Linked DNA regions of Homo sapiens: region 1 is linked to region 2. A link means that fine-mapping ties the variant in region 2 to the expression of a gene that starts in the linked region. Tissue or cell type: esophagus muscle. Region 2 holds a variant in brackets; the other region holds the start of a gene. All regions are shown on one strand. Distances are between the middles of the regions.

Region 1 (8,108 bases), 300 kb after region 2:
AAGACACTCACAGAGGTAATGAGTAGTGAAGAAATTTGGCACTCAAATATAGCGCATTTAGAATTACAAGTGGAAAAAGTCTCTCATTTTCAGGGGCCAGGCAAAAGAAAAGTGCCATAAAACAATTGAGACACCATGTAAAGTTTGCGATCAAATGTACTTCCAAACACATTTAACATTCAATTTCTTTCAAACAGCTCTCCTCCCTCTCCCTGGAGTGACTGGCCTTTCAATTTAAAAATAATAATTATGGCAATTTTTAAAAAAGAGAATGAAATATCTAAAGTGGCTCTAAATTAACAAGTACCACTTACTCCAGACAGCATTGCCTTTAGCAGCTCCTAAAAACTTAAGAAAAGGATCTTAAAACAGGAAGCTTAGTGAGCTCATAAAACTGTTGCTGGAGCCAGGAACACATAGCATATTTAATCTGCAAACTGTGAGAGTCTACAGTGATTTCAGCAAGATCTGAGGCATGCCCTCAAGGTTTGCTGGGATCTGGGATTAGGGGGTTGATAAGAACCTCCACTGCCCATGGACATGTTTTTCTTCTGCAGTTAAACACAAATGCATAGAGACGTTTGACTGCTGCTTGGCGTTACTGCTCAAGTTATATAAAAGCTTTGCAGCTCCTTTTGCTGTCAATATATCAAAGTTTAAAAAAAATCATCAAAGTGTGAAATTTCATTTAAAGTCTTCGCCAGTCTACAGCTCTATTTCACAGGCCCATCAAATAAAAGTAAAGATGAAAAATACACTGAAAATACTTGAAAAAGTTTGCAGCAGTACCCCCTGCCCTGTTGTTGTTTATTCTGTCTCCCTTTATTTGCTTTGAAACCAGAAACAGATCAATTTTCATCTAGAAAAATGACAACGTGAAGAGAAGGGCAGTATCTTCTCCTAGGCTTTAATGAAAAGACAACCTGAAGTCATTATTAGAGTGGAACCTTTTGTTTAACAAACGTGTGTGTATGTGTGTGTGTGTCCTATAAAGTCATTTCAGCATTTTAATTGCCTCTCATGATATAAGTTGGCAGAAAATTTACTGAATCTTCCAAAACAAATCAGACCGACCTCAGAATATGAATGCCAGCAAAACTAAAACCTCCTTCAAAGAATTCTTTAGCTGGGGATTTACAACAATTGCATAAAGAAGAAAAGTCTGACTTTTAAGATAATCTACTATAGTCTAAAAGCATTAACATTCCATTGCTAAGGTTTTCTTGAGGATTTCATGACTCATTGATTCACTTTTCCTTCAAGACTGGTTTTTCTTAGTACATTACTGTCTCCATGTAAGTGAGTGCATGCAACAATGATCATTAAATTGTTTCTTTTCATAAGCTCCCAAACTCTATCCTCAAAAAATGGAGGGGGAGAAGAGGTCTCAGTAAGCAGGATACCTTACATAGGAGGAAGGACCTCTAAATGGCTAAGCACAGAGGAAGTCTGAAATGCTTACAGCATGCAGGTAATTAAGGAAACTTCACTGGCCAAGAAACAAAGGAAAGTCCAACTTTTAGGCTTGCACATCGAATTGATAAATTAACAATTCTTTCATTAAATAATTAATGAAATAACTCTACAGAGCCATTTTTCATCAGTATTGAATTTTCTCATTTCTGTCTATGGTCCTTTGCAAATTAGATATACAATAGAAATGTGTTTATATCAAGGTTCAGTCAAGGAACACAAGCATGTTAAAGGCACTGGGAATTGGTAGGCATCTGAGTTGGACCTACCAGCCTACTAACAATAATACAATCTATATCTTTAAAGTGTTTCTGCTTGTGTGAAATTTCACTAGACACCTCTCACATTGGACTCATTCATGCATCTTAAACCAAAGCTTCCCTAGGCTGACTTTAAGAATTGCATACCCTGAAAGGATCTCCCCTTAGGCGGGGAGTTTCTAATTAAATAGCTTTTAGTATAAAATAAACTCTCTACTCTGTATAAGCATGCTATTACAACTAATTTAAATGTTATTTCATGTTTGTTTTAGGTTTGAATATAGTTTAACTGGCCAAAGTGTTTGTGTACCAGGTCGTTAAGACCAATATTTCCTAACATAAACAAATTCTTCAGATACTTCACAGAGTTTACATTGTTAAAACCAGTCCCGGCAGCTTTAATATATCCCCTCAACTGAAATACTGTTCTGCTTTAGAAAAATTAAGAGATTTTGAGGCTATTTCACTATTTTAAAACATAGCATTTTCCTCCTTCAAAAGAATCTTGACACATGTAATTAAGAAACTGTCAGACTACTATTAATTTTTAATCTAAAACCTAAATGAAATAATTACAGGAATCAATCAATAAGGCACCTATTCAAAATTACCGAGCAATTACATAAATACTCAAAATTAATACTTTAGGTCAATTCTTGTAGATTTCGGTCTATAATATGCTAAGACATCAAACAACACAAAAAGTGTAGCATGGGGAGGATGAATGGTTCCTGCCTTAAATAGACTGAAAAGAGCTCATTTCAGACGGCCAGGGTGCAGGCCCCCCACCCGCCATGCCCAATGCGCTCAAGCTGAAACTCTTTTATTTTTAAAAGTTAATTTATTTCCACCAGACACATATTTCAGGGATCTAAAAAAACGGCCTCATCCAAATTCTGTACAAAAATCACATTTAAGAGGGAAAGGCCTAATTACTCGAATTTTCAGCAAAGTGTATATACTGTGCTCTGGAAAGCCTAACTGGAGAGAAGAGGGAGGAGAGGAAAAGGGGAGCAGGAGGTATTTTTTAGAACTAATAATACCAGCCCGGCTAATGGCACTGCCATGTATTTGCACAGCGGCCGGCCCTCCATACCTTTGACTAAAGGGTTCTTTGACTTGGAGACGCAGACAGTCCATCATTTCAAACTGAAGTGGCAGCTGGAAAATGTGGAACAGCTGGCAAAGAGCTGGGAGAAAATGTTTTACATAAATATATGTACATATAAACTGGCAGAGGGCCATGAGCACTGTACCCAAGGCCAGAATCTACCCGGCAGTCTGCACTGGGGAGATGAGAAGTTGGGGCAGGATGACCAGCGGCGGAGGGAGCCTCCTTAATCCTCTTTCCACGCGGGGTCAGGCAGGGAAGCCTGGGGTGCAGCGCCTCTCGGGGGACGGCATCTTACAGAAGGAGGTGCAATGGGGGACAGGAGCACAAAGTTCAGGAAAGGATAAAAGGCCGGGTGCGGGGTGGAGCGTCCGCTTCGGACAATCTGCTTAAAAGTCGCTTCACAAACTCTGCAAGTTTGGGATCAATATTTACACCCTCTCTGCCTTCTCCCGCCCGTTTTCCCGCTGCTACTCAAGAAAGTAACTGTCCCCTGCTGCTCTGTGTAAACGCGGCACCTTAAATGATTATTGCATGGACCACGGTTACTTTGTGTGTCTGTGCGCGCTGCCCCTGGAAAGGAAAAGAAATAAGAGAATCCCAAATCATATACAGATGGTACAACTTTCACTTTTCCTCTATGACGACGAAGGCGCGCCTCTCTCCATCCGCTCACACCACACCCCCGCCCTCCGAAGCATAGCCCGGGCTGGAGAAGCCCCAGCGGCGGCGGCCCCCGCGGCGGAGGTCCCCGCGCGCACCCACCATGCCTCCCGCCTCCTTCCGCCCATCCCGAGCGCCGTGCGCGCCCGAAGCCCGAGCCGTAGAGCGCCACCGCGCAAAGGAAGGAGCCAGGCGCGTGCGGGGCTCGCGGAGTTCTTCTGAACCCTTTGGATGGGGGCGGAGGCGAGGGGCGCCGCCACCACTGCGGCAAACTTCGTCCCCCCTCCGGGAGGTGAAATTCTCCAATCCGTCTCCGGCCGGTCCGCGGGTCGGACTCTTCGGAAAGGACCTTCCAGGAGGAGGGAGCGAATGCAAGCCTTGCTCGGACGCCTCACCGGCGGCTCTCTAAATCTGGGCGCCTTTTGACAGCCATTTTCACTCCATCCCGTCCCCACGCTGGGGACCACCTCTGGCCCCGGAGGCGCGGGCGCGGCCGCAGGAGCGGGCTGCGGGGTCCGCGAAACAAAGAACTTCGAGCGGGACGTACCTGCGGCGGCAGCGGCTGTCAAGTCCCCGAACTTCCCATAGACCCGCGGACGGGGCGCAGGCTGGCGGCTCCCCGCTCCGCGCGGCCGCGGGCGGCTACGGCTACCGCGAGCGGCCGGGCTGGGCGCGGGGTGCGCCCGCCGCGGGCATGGTGCGGCGCGGGCGGCCGCGGGGCGCGCGGGGAAGGCGGGAGAGCGGCGCGGGTGAGTGGGAGCGGCGGGTGTGCGCGAGTGCGAGTGTGCGAGCGCGCCGGTGGCGCTGCCCCTGCCCGCTCCCTCCCGCTCGTGCAGCTCCGGCATCAGTTTCGGGGATCGTGTAATCCGATCCCTTCTGACTCACAAGCCCTGAGTGACAGTTCTGATTTGGTTCAACCGCGGGAGGGAGGGGAAAGAGAAAGAAAGAAACCCCCAGCCGTACGCCTCTCCTGGCATCCAATCGACTTTCTGGAAAAAGGTCCCATCCCGGCCTGGTGCCCCGTGCTGGGTGGAGAAGCCCCCCGCCCCGACCTGGCACCGCCTGCACTACTCACGGGGTGGAAAAGTTGTCCCTCGGCTCCGCGCTCCCCTCCCGCGCGCTCCCTCCTTCCCTTCTCTCCTCCTCTTCCTCCTCCTCCCCGCGCTCCTCCTCCCCCAAGTTTTAACAGATGTTGCCGGACTCTCCTCGCTCCCTCGCACTCTCTCTTCCTCCGCCCCGGCCCCCGCCCAGTCCCTTTTCTTTCAGCCACTCTCGGGCTCGGAGGGGACGCGCTGAGCAGCAGGACGCCTGCCGCCGCAGGGGGCGAAGTTGGGAAAACTTGGAGTGCTGCTCGCCTTACTTTTGCTTTCTCGCTCCTTCCAGGCCGCGCCGGGAGCCCCCGCTTCTCCCGCCCGCCGGGTCCCCAAGCCCGGAGTGGGTCCCAGCTGCGAGGCGGGCGGCGGCGGCTGGGAGGCGGCGCGTCGCGGGCCGGGGTCGGGGGCTGGGGGGGAGCCCGGGCGCCGCGAGCCACGCGCGCGCTCCCTCCCCGCCCTCCGCCGCCGCCGCCGCCGCCGCCGCCGCCTCCTCCTCCTCCTCCTCCTTCTCCTCCTCCTCCTCCTCCTCCGCCCCTCCCCGGTCTTCACACAGACACATTCATGCCTGCTCCTCCTCTTCCCCCTACTTGACCCCGCGCCCTCCCGGCGCGCCGAAGCCCCACCCACCCGGCGAGGGGAAGGGGGCCCGGGCGTGATGTCACCCGCGCCCTCTCTCTTCTCTCTCCACACCGCCAGGACACCCCCCAAATGCGCGCCCTGGCACTCGTGCTGCGTCCTGTCTGCTCCCATCTTCTCCCACCCAGCCTCTCTTTCTCACTCTTGCTCAAGGGCTGGACTCCCCTTTATTCTTTTAAGGCTTCTCTGATTACCACCGCCCCCCATCCTTGGCTCCCCATCTCCTTGTTTTACATTTTCCCAAAGCCATCCCCGAAACTCCCTCTCGCGGGATGATGCCTTTGGAAGTTCAGGGTTTTTCTCTCCACCGGACTCGTCTGCCCTCGGGGCCAAATCCGCGAAGCGAGGAGGAGCTCCCACCACACAGCCTGCTGTCCCTATGGGCCACTTTATAAAAGACACAAAAACAAAGACCCCAGGCTTGGAGCCTGGTCTCTAACGTGCCGCTTTTCCTTGAGCTACAAAGTGTCTCTGTCCCTGCTTCATTTTCAGAGGCCCATGCTAGTAAAAGTTATTTGGCCTCCTTCCTCGACCATCCAGTCCTTGTTCATCTGCGTCATTTTAATATATCCAACCTGGACATGTAACTTAAAAAAGGAGTTCTCGGGGGGAAACACAGGAAGAAAAAGAAAGAAAAGAAAGCCCCTGTGACATTCCAACATCCCCTCTTTCTGGTTAAGCCGGGTCCACCCAGCCAGAAGTGCCCCGGAGCTCCGGGTTGCTTGTGTGGCGTTGCCGCCAAGTGTCTTGACTGAAGGAAGAGTGTGGGTGGATGAATGATGAGCTATTAGAATTTGAAGAGCATTTTGAGATTCAAATGCTTAACTGAAGAATCTTTTAACGAAATTGAGGGTGGTATTCATTGTTTGTTTCTTGGGACTCCTTCCTTGTCACAATGACATGACAAGTGCAGAGACAGACTTAAGGTTTTATGGTGGAAGTGGTGGAGGTAAGGTGGGGCTAAAGGCCCTAGTTAGCCATTTGTTTTAAGATTTCCCTCGACCTCACGGCTCAGGAAAAAACAAAACACCACTGACTCATCGCAGAGAGCACGAGACTCAGAAGCCCTGTGGCAGCCCCATCTCCGCGCTCACTAACTGGCCTCAGGCCTGGGAGGATTCTCTGAGCCTCCATAGGCTCTGAGCCCATCTAGGGGATAGTGTTAGGAGTGCCAGGTCGCGTACCTCCCAGGATGGCTGAGGGTTTCCAATGAGAAATACATGGAAAAGTATAGAGGGCTACAAGTGTGTAAGAATTATGCTTTTACAATTGAAGAGAATTGCAAGCCACTCTTTCCTTTATATACTCCCAGCATCAGTTACAATTGTTTTTAGTATTCATGTACTGCTTCTGCCTCAATCACATGAATACAAATAGTACATCCTGATAGCCTACTCTGTTCACCCAATGGCAAAAAATAAATACAAAGAAAGACAGCCAATAAATCATCAAATAATAGAATAAACTAGATATTTCGACTCTTACTTCAGTCTTATAGCACATTTTGAATCATGAAGATCTTGATTTTTCAGTTCTTAAAAGACAAGAACAAAGCAAAAGCAGCTAATCTTTCCCCCTATGCCCGTCACAATAGCTAAACAAAAAAGAGGAAGAATAATGCTGTGTCTCTTATGTGTCCAACTCTGCTTTAATGGTAAACCCATACATATAAGTAGGCACATTTTGCAGAAACAGTGGAGGGGTAAAAAACCCACTTTGCCTGAGTGTGGGTTAAATAATGTCATAATGCAGTGACTTTCTCTCTGTGTTAACACCAGAACGCTTTCCAAATTAAATCTTACGTAGAATCCCAAAATATAGAAGAGTTATTATGGTTGAAATTGGAGTGAGGTCTCGGAGCCCAATCCCCCTAAGCCTTTCTCTCTTTCCCTTTCCTGCAGTTGCTCCTGAGACATCTGTAAAAACCCAAAGACACCCAGAAAGACAATGCTACAACCTTTGTTTGTAGTGATACACAGCACTAAGAGACTTACAGGATTCTGTGCACTGCCCTTCCTTGATGTCTGAAATTCTATCATAGATTGACTTATTGCCATCTCTCATCAGTTCTCTTTTCAAATGCAGATATCTTAAGAAATTTTAATATAGTAAGTCCTCAGAATAGTTAAGCTTTTAAGACAGACTTTCTTTCTTGTTGTTGCAACAGTGAAGTAGGAGATACTTGAAGATACTTGCATTTGTTTTCTAGGGCCATGGTAACAAAGTACCAAAAACTGGATGGCTTAAAGGACAGACATGTATTGTCCTATAGTTTCTAGAGGCTTGAAGTCCAAAAGTAAGGTGTCTTGCAGGGCCACACTCCCTCTGAAACCTGGAAAAGAAATTTCTCCCTTGCCTCTTACTGGCTTCTGGTGGTGGCTGTCAATCTGGGTGTCCCGTGGCTTGCAGCTTCTCCCTTTCAGTCTCCACCTCTGTCCTCATATGGCATTCTCCCTTTGTCTCTGGCTTCTCTTCTTATAAAAGCACGAGTTATATTCTGTTAGAGACCCACCCTACTCCAGAATGACCTCATCTTAACTAATTACATCTGCAACAAGCCTGTTTCCAAGATCATATTCTGAGGTTCCTAGGGTTAGAACTTCAACATTTTCTTCTGGGGGACATAATTCAACTCCTAACAACACTGCAAAAGATAGTGGGAGAGGAATGAAGGATACGCAAGAGAGAGAACAAAGGATGAACCTGGAAACAAACTTCACGTGCTCCTCTGATTCCTACCATGGGCCGATGTTATACAAATACTTTTCTCCCCTCACTTACCATGGCAGTTCTTCCATCTCCCTGCACAGTAGCACCCAGTTAATTATTGGAAAATTCCAGGAGGATAGTCCATGTGTACTAATAAACTTC
Region 2 (8,108 bases):
TCCCCCCCACACCCACCCCCAGACTACTTAGCAAGATCCTTTTTTCCCCGTCTCGTCAACACTTACTTGAGTCCCCTCATAAGTCACCAACTCCAGGAAGCCTTCCATGTTTGACTCCATGAGTCCATAATGCTCTTTCATACTATTTTTTAGCACTTACCACCTACTGAGATTCTTAAAGATGGCATCCTGTCCCAAGGAGACTAGAATTATGCTGTAATAACTATTGTATCTTCACCGCTTAGCGGCGCTTCACACAAAATAGAGAGTCAATAAATATTTGATAAATAAAAGAATAGTGCAGTGATCTGATGAACCCAGCCCCAGCCAGTGTCTGACTCCTAACCGCATGAGACCCAGAACAAGGACTGCTTAGCCAAGCCCAGTCAACCCCTAGAGCTGTGGAAAGATAGTAATAATGAAAGACCATTGTTATACTCCACTGAATTTGGAATGGTTTGTTATGCAACAATAGGTGACTAGAACAACCTTAGAAGAGCTATAAGACATAATCAACCTGTACTAAGAGAGGCCAGGAGAGTATCTATGGGCCTGGATCCTGGGGGTGCTAGATCAAGGAGAATAAGGAAGAGTTAGTCTTTGTGAAAGCCCTGCCCCCTGACCCAAGATTTAACACTGTGGCAAGGTTCCTGACATGCTGCTAGGTCAGACCTTGGAAGCTTAGGCACACTAACCGGAGGAGAAATGCTGAGTCAAATGGTAGAGAAAGAATACAATGCCCAGGGAAGTGGGCATAGTATTGTAGATACACTTCATAAGGCCAAAACTCTACAAGACAATGAAGGCCTGGAGTCACTCCATTTACTAAGGTAATCAATCATTTTATTGGCAAGATGGACAGCAATACCATTAAGCTCAGGGATGACTGTCTTCTCTAGGCAAGTCCTGCAATAAGGGATGCTTACATAAAGATGCTGTCTTTGGCTCATTAATATAATTCTGTAAAGCATCATACCATTCTTCAAGTGGGGTCAAGAGCAGATCAGGACTCTATAACAGACTAGGCTGCAGTGCAAACAGACCTTCCACATAAGGTATATGACATAAAAGACCTTAGGATTTCAGTAGTACCTGTCATGGGAAAGACAATGTGCTATAGAGTTTTTGGCAAGCCCTGATAGTAAAATTCCAACCTACACCCCTAAGTTTCTGGAGCAAGGCCATACTATCTGCAGTAGAGAACTATGTGCTAGTTGAAAAATAGCTCCTGTTGCTATGATTTCTTAAAGGGCTGGGCCTTAGGGTTTCAAGTGACCATTCAGCTAGAATGGTGCCTATCCGTTCTGCTAGATCTGTGAGGCCATAAGTTCTGCTAGCTCTACAAGGCCGTAAGGTCAGGTAGGCTTACCAACAATGCATTGTAAGTTAGATGTGTTGTATTGAAGATGATCACAGAGATGGAGGACACAAGAAAAGGGCATGAACATGTGTCCCAGACCCTCATGTCATTCACCACTGTCATCCTGAATCTCTTCCTCAGCTCTTGTAACCTACTGACAGAGGAGGAATTAGGCCAATTTTGCTTCACAAATGGGCTACTGAATGTGTAGGTGCAAGCTGAAAAACTGTCCTGAAATACAGCCTTACTCAACTGGTGGTTCTGAGAGTCAGGGGTGAGGTTAAATCCTCTCAAAGGGCAAAGCTTGGATAGTGCACTTGATCACTTACGTTGTGTAGAAAGAAAAGTAATCTAACTTAAGAATATGTATGGACTTATGGTCTGTGGTGAGTGCCTCTGTTTTTTGTCATGACCCTGGAAGGAGAAAGATAGGAAGATGGGGAATAAAGCAGTCTGTAGAAGATGTATGTGCCTAAGTCTGTGGAGTGGACACAATTAATGAAGATTTTTGTATCACGTTTTAAGGTTCACCAGAAAGCAACTACCACTAGAGAGCCAGTAAGCAACTAAGCAGACAAAATTAGTTGATACCATCCAGTCTCTGTCATTGACCACCTCATATCTATCACGATGGGCTCATGAACAGTGTATGGAGAATAGCAAAGAAGGAGGCTATGTGTGGGTCCCACAGCTAGGTTCCCATTCACTAAGGCTGATTAGCTACATCTGTATCTTCAGTCTACCAGCAATAGATACCTGTGCTGAGCCATCACATATGGCACCATTTCTCAAGTTGATCAACTGGCTACTTGGTGAAAAGTTGACTACACTGCACCAATTTTACCACTCAAAAGTAGAAATTCATCTTGACTGGAAGCAACAGATATTCCGGGTACAGGTTTGCCTTTTTTGCTTGCAGGGGCTCAGCCAGCCCCACTACCAAACGCTTGCAAAGTATTTGATCCATGATGTGGAATTCCACATAATATTTCTTCAGACCAAGGAGATGTGGCAAAGGAAGTGTATCAGAGGGTCACAGAACTATATCACACCACTAGAAGCTACTAGCCTGATAGAGTACCAAATGACCACCTGAAGCCCCATTTGAAAATCATGTCCTGTGAGATGGGACGTCATCCTCCAGGTACAGTGTACATGCTCGATCATATATGATGCTCTGACCCTGATAAGTAGAATATAGAGTCCACGAACCAAGAGACTGGAGTAGGCATGATCCTGCTTATCATTATTCCCAAATGTGCACTTGAAGAAGCTGTGCTTCCCATTCCTGAAATTCTAGGTTCTACATAACTAGAAGTCTTAATTCCCAGAGGACAATCACAAGGAACATTGCATTAGACTTGAAGCCATTTCTGCAGCCTGGTAACTTTAGACTCTTTGTTTCTAGATTCCAGCAATCAAGGAAGGAATCACCATACTTGCAGATGTAATTGACGTTGGTCACTGAGGGAGGTAGAACAGGCATTACATAATGAGGGCAAAAAAGAAATTTGGTCCCCCAAGTGATCCAGTGACACATCTCTCAGTATGCTCCAGTCCAAATTTGACAAGAAATAGGTAAGTGTATCAACTGTGGCCTGAGAATGTCATGGTACTAGGGGCTCAGAGAGATGAAGGTCTCAGTCACCCACCAGAAAGCCACAATACAAGCAGAGGTACTAATCAAGAATGAGAGTCATCTAGAACAGGTGGTAGGGGAGAGAGATGGTGAGTACATATTGTAGCCTCAAGACTGCTGCATTGGCTAGGGGTGAGGGAGTAGATCCTTCTACTAGCTTTCTTCATCTTGTAGGTTTCCTCAAGAAGAGCGCCAGCCACAGTTCTGGAGTATCTGTTCCTAGACGGAGGTGAATGCACTAGATGAAGTGCATGAACCTGAACAACTTGAGGGAAGGACAGTAGTAGATGCTGGGCTGCTGTCAAGATCCCCCTTACAGTTGGGGCACCCATTCATCCAGCTGCCCGGGTTGTTGAAGGGTAGTGATGGCTCTCAGATGACTCCCTGTCCTGAAATATCCTCAGCCAAGGGAAACTGACTCATCTAAAATTTTGCCCCCTCCCTGGGCACAGGCTGCACCCATGACTAGTCTTTCTGGGGACACAAAGACTTGATTCCCTTGTCTCAATTGAGACAATTCTCACGGCTGTCTCAAGTCCAGAGCTCCCTGTCAGCCTCTGTTGAAACTGTATTGCAATTCAACTGCTCCATTTGCCAAGTTCTGCCTTTGCTTCTCCCTTTGCCCCATTCTCATCTTTCAAGATCTTTACTCGATAAATATTTTGCATAAAAAGCTCAGGGTTGTGGAGTCTGTTTTCCAGGAAACTTGCAATACAACAGATGGGTAAACGAATATTCAAATAAAGAGATGATCCAATCCACCTGGCTCAACTGTCACGTTGTCAAGGAAAGAAAAGTTCGGTTTTGAGAAGCTTAAAGATGTATGTTTGATATGGTTTGGCTGTGTCCCCATCCAAATCTCAACTTGAATCGTATCTCCCAGAATTCCCATGTGTTGTGGGAGGGACCCAGGGGGAGGTAATTGAATCATGGGGGCCTGTCTTTCCCTTGTTATTCTCATGGTAGTGAATAAGTCTCATGATATCTGACTCTGATGGGTTTATCAGGGGTTTCTGCCTTTGCTTCTCTTGTCATTCTCTCTTGCCGCTGCCATGTAAGAAGTGTCTTTAGCCCTCCATGATGATTGTGAGGCCTCTGCAGCCACGTGGAACTGTAAGTCCAATTTTACCTCTTTCTTTTGTAAATTGCCCAGTCTTGGGTATGTCTTTATCAGCAGTGTGAAAACAAACTATACAATAAATTGGTATCAGTAGAGTGGGGCACGGCTGAAAAGATACCTGAAAATGTGGAAGCGACTTTGGAACTGGGTAACAGGCAGAGGTCGAACAGTTTGGAGGGCTTAGAAGAAGACAGGAAAATGTGAGAAAGTTTGGAACCTCCTAGGGACTTGCTGAATGGCTTTGACAAAAATGCTGATAGTGATAAGAACAATAAGGTCCAGGTTGAGGTAGTCTCAGATGGAGATGAGGAACTTGCTGGGGACTGGAG[C/T]AAAGGTGACTCTTGTGTTTTAGCAAAGAGACTGGTGGCATTTTGCCCCTGCCTCAGAGATTTGTGGAACTTTGAACTTGAGAGAGATGATTTAGGGTATCTGGCAGAAGAAATTTCTTTCTTTTCTTTTTTTTTTTTTAAGACAGAGTCTTGCTCTGTCACCCGGGCTGCAGTGCAATGGTGCAATCTCAGCTCACTGCAACCTCCACCTCCCAGGTTCAAGCAATTCTCTTGCCTCAGCATCCCAAGTAGCTGGGATTACAGGAGCCTGCCACCACACTGAGCTAATTTTTGTATTTTTAGTAGAGATGGGGTTTCACCATGTTGGCCAGGCTGGCCTCGAACCCCTGACCCCAGGTGATCCTTGGCCTCCCAAAGTGCTGGGATTATAAGCGTAAGCCACTGCGTCTGGCCTGGCAGAAGAAATTGCTAAGTAGCAAAGCATTCAAAAGGTGACTTAGGTGCTATTAAAAGCATTCCATTTTAAAAGGGAAATAGCATAAAAGTTCAGAAATTTGCAGCCTGATTAAACAGTAGAAAAGAAAAACCCATTTTCTGAGGAGAAATTTAAGCCAGCTGCAGAAATTTGCATAAGTAGTAAGGAGCCTAATGTTAATCCCCAAGACCATGGGGAAAACTTCTCCAGGGCATGTCCTAGCTCTCATCCTTCTGTCTCCCCACACAGAGCTTTCACGGCAGCAGATTCTAGAAAAGGGAGAGAGAAATCAGACAGGGTGCTAGTGCCTTAGTCGGCTTCAGGCTGCTATAACAGATTGCTACAGACTGGGTAAATTATATAGAACAGAAATTTACTTCTCACAGTTCTGGAGGCTGGGAAGTCCAAGATCAAAGGGCTGGCATCTGGTGTTTGGCAAGGACTTTCTCGCTTCATCCTCTGAAGGGAGAAACACTGTGACCTCACATGGCAGAAGAGTGGAAGAATACAAGGGATAAGCTCTTTCACACAGGCCCCTTTATATATAAACAGCATTAATTCATTCCCAAAGGCAGAGCCCTTATGATGTAAACATCTCCCAAAAGCTCCACCTCCCAACACTATTGCATTGGATATTACATTTCTAACACAAGAATCCTGGGGGACATATTCAGGCCATAACAACGAGATAAGTAGAAATTTCTCCCTCTGGCTCCTCTGGGTTGGGGAGTTAGGGCAGGGTGAGGGAACATGCTGGGGAAATGAGATTGGGACATTCATGCTCATGGATGGACCACAGGCTGAGTTTTCCACTGGATGTAAGAGTCACCTTCTCAGATATTATGGAGAATTTACTTTGTGTGCCTGCACCAAATCACATAGGCCAGAGGAGAATGCTGAATGTTAGAGAAAATTATTGAACAGGGCCAGGTTTAAACTCAAGGTGAAGGGAATCTAAATAGGAAGGGTAAGACCTGGCAATGTAGTTATGACCACCTCCATAATTATTAACCCCCAATCCTTGGTTCCAGACTTTTAATCCAAAAGGAGAAGCATCTATTGGGCATGCCTTCTTGTGTGCCAAGTAATGCATTGTCTACACTTGAAAGGGGATGGGATGTTGGACTTTAAAATCAGTTAAAAAGCCTATTTCAAATGCAGATTCTGGCCTCCAGAGATTTCAGTAAGAAAGGGACAAGGAATCTGATTTTTCATTTAAGAAGCAGACCAGGGCCGGGCGGGGAAGCTCATGCCTGTAATCCCAGCACTTTGGGAGGCCAAGGCGGGTGGATAACGAGGTCAGGAGATGGAGACTATCCTGGCTAACACGGTGAAACCCCGTCTCTACTAAAAATACAAAAAATTAGCCAGGCGTGGTGGCGGGCACCTGTAGTCCCAGCTACTCTGGAGGCTGAGGCAGGAGAATGGCGTGAACCAGGGAGGTGGAGCTTGCAGTGAGCGGAGATGGCGCCACTGCACTCCAGCCTGGGCGACAGAGCAAGACTCCATGTCAAAAAAAAAAAACAAAAAAAAAAAACAAGAGGCAGCCCCGAAGATTCTGAAGCAGGTGATCTCTTAGCCACTCTTTGACAAGCACAGATTTAATGTCTCCTAGACCAAACAGGCAGACACAGCAGAATGAAGCTCTCCAGCTCAACTGCAGGGTGGATGTGCCTAGTCTGTCTTGTCCCTCTTCCTTGCCAAGGTGGCCCTTTACAGCTGCCCTGTTCAATACAGATGAGCCACAGGAACTATTGAGCATTTGAAACGTGGCTAGTCCAAAGTGAGATGTGCTGCAAATGTAGCACAGACATGGAATTGTGAAGATTTGGCAAAATCAAAAAATGTCAAAGGCGTCATTAATAATTGTTGATGTTACATACTGAGATGACAATATGTTGGATTTATAGGTTTAAATAAAGTATAAACTTGATTTCACTTTTTAAAAACTTTTTAAAGTAAGGCTACCAGAAAATTTAAAATTACATTTGTGGCTTTAATTTGTGACTTGCATTATATCTCCATTGGGCTGCCCAGGTCTAGTCAATCCCTGCCACAGAACACGGAGCAACACCTCCATCCTGTCCCCAGACCTACTGCTCTTAATCACTGAGGCCCCTTTGGAACTCTAATAACTATAATTTGTGGTTCCTTGTGTGCCAGAATTGCACTAAAAACCTTATCCATGTTCTCTCATTTAATGTTCACAATCGCCCTCATGAAACAGCCATTTCAATCTCTGGTTCTCAGATACACTGCTCCCAGTACTGACCTCTTCTGAAGCTTTTCTGGTGCTGTATTGAAAACCTCCTCCTCTCTGTAAGTCCTCCAGCCACCTCTGAGCTGCTGGAGATCAGACCCATTTGTATTTTAATTCTCACTTCCTAGCACATGGCGCTCTGGGACGCAGACAGATTAAGTGACTTATCCACCCTCTGGGTCACAGGGCACCAGGATTTGAATATGATCTGTCTGCAAAGTCCACGCTTTTTTTGTGTGTTTTTGAAAATCACTTTATTGAGGAATGACACGTAAAAAGCAGTATGCTTTTCAACCATCACATATGCCAGCTCCCAGGTGGGCTGCTGTGGGAGCAGGGAAGGGTGCAGGGAGGAGAGCCCACTTCTCTTTCCCTGTGATTATTTTTCCTGCACGGGGTTGTATGGCCAAAAAGTGCGCAAATAGATTGGTAAACACTAAAGCTGGTCCTCGTTACTGACAGGTGAAAAGAACATGTGTAAGACCCAAAACACCTAGGAAGGACATTTGTAAGGTGACTAAGCCTGAGCTCCGCCTGTCTCTTTGGAAGCAGCCAAGGTACAGTAAATGCTCTTGAACACCAGGGGGCAGTGTGTGACTGCCGTTTCTCATTCCGCTCCCTACAGAGCCTCAAAGCAGTTTTTCCCAGTAAAGCTGATCTCTGCTACATGGGTCCTAACTCTGAGCCTCTGTCACCTCTGTCAACAAGACTTTCCTTGAGTGACAAAAACTGAACTTAAGTAATGTAAGTGCCCACAACAGCTGAAGTCTGAGCAATTCTTAGCGGCAGGAAGATGTTTCTCTTGCTGCCTGAACTACTCCTAGAATGGTAGAGCATCAAAGAACCATAGCTCCTTAAGCATCTCTGGGCAAGAGGTGCCTGACCCCTATCCCTGATGGCACTGAGTCCTGTCTGGGACACTCTATTACATTTCTTTTCTGTCTTTCTCCTTCCTTTCACCTAC

Which allele goes with the higher level. Positions count from the first base shown, and alleles are read on the strand shown. Sizes are in standard deviations (SD) of each study's normalised expression.
In carriers of allele C in region 2, the expression in esophagus muscle of the gene that starts at base 4,293 in region 1 tends to be higher than with T alone (moderate effect, 0.62 SD a copy in GTEx).

What was found. PIP is the estimated chance that this variant, and not a neighbour inherited with it, causes the effect.
Region 1: it holds the start of GLI3, and the variant in region 2 is fine-mapped to the expression of GLI3 in esophagus muscle (GTEx, PIP 0.99).

The regions. Positions count from the first base shown.
Region 1 is chr7:42,232,917-42,241,024 of GRCh38, forward strand. It overlaps GLI3 (GLI family zinc finger 3), which reads right to left and starts at 4,293. Exons shown (of 15, transcript NM_000168.6): 1 at 4,055-4,293. RefSeq lists an enhancer at 4,037-5,018.
Region 2 is chr7:41,933,216-41,941,323 of GRCh38, forward strand. LOC124901618 (a long non-coding RNA gene) reads right to left here and starts at 375. Exons shown (of 2, transcript XR_007060294.1): 1 at 161-375. The variant C/T (reference allele first, on the strand shown) is at 4,449.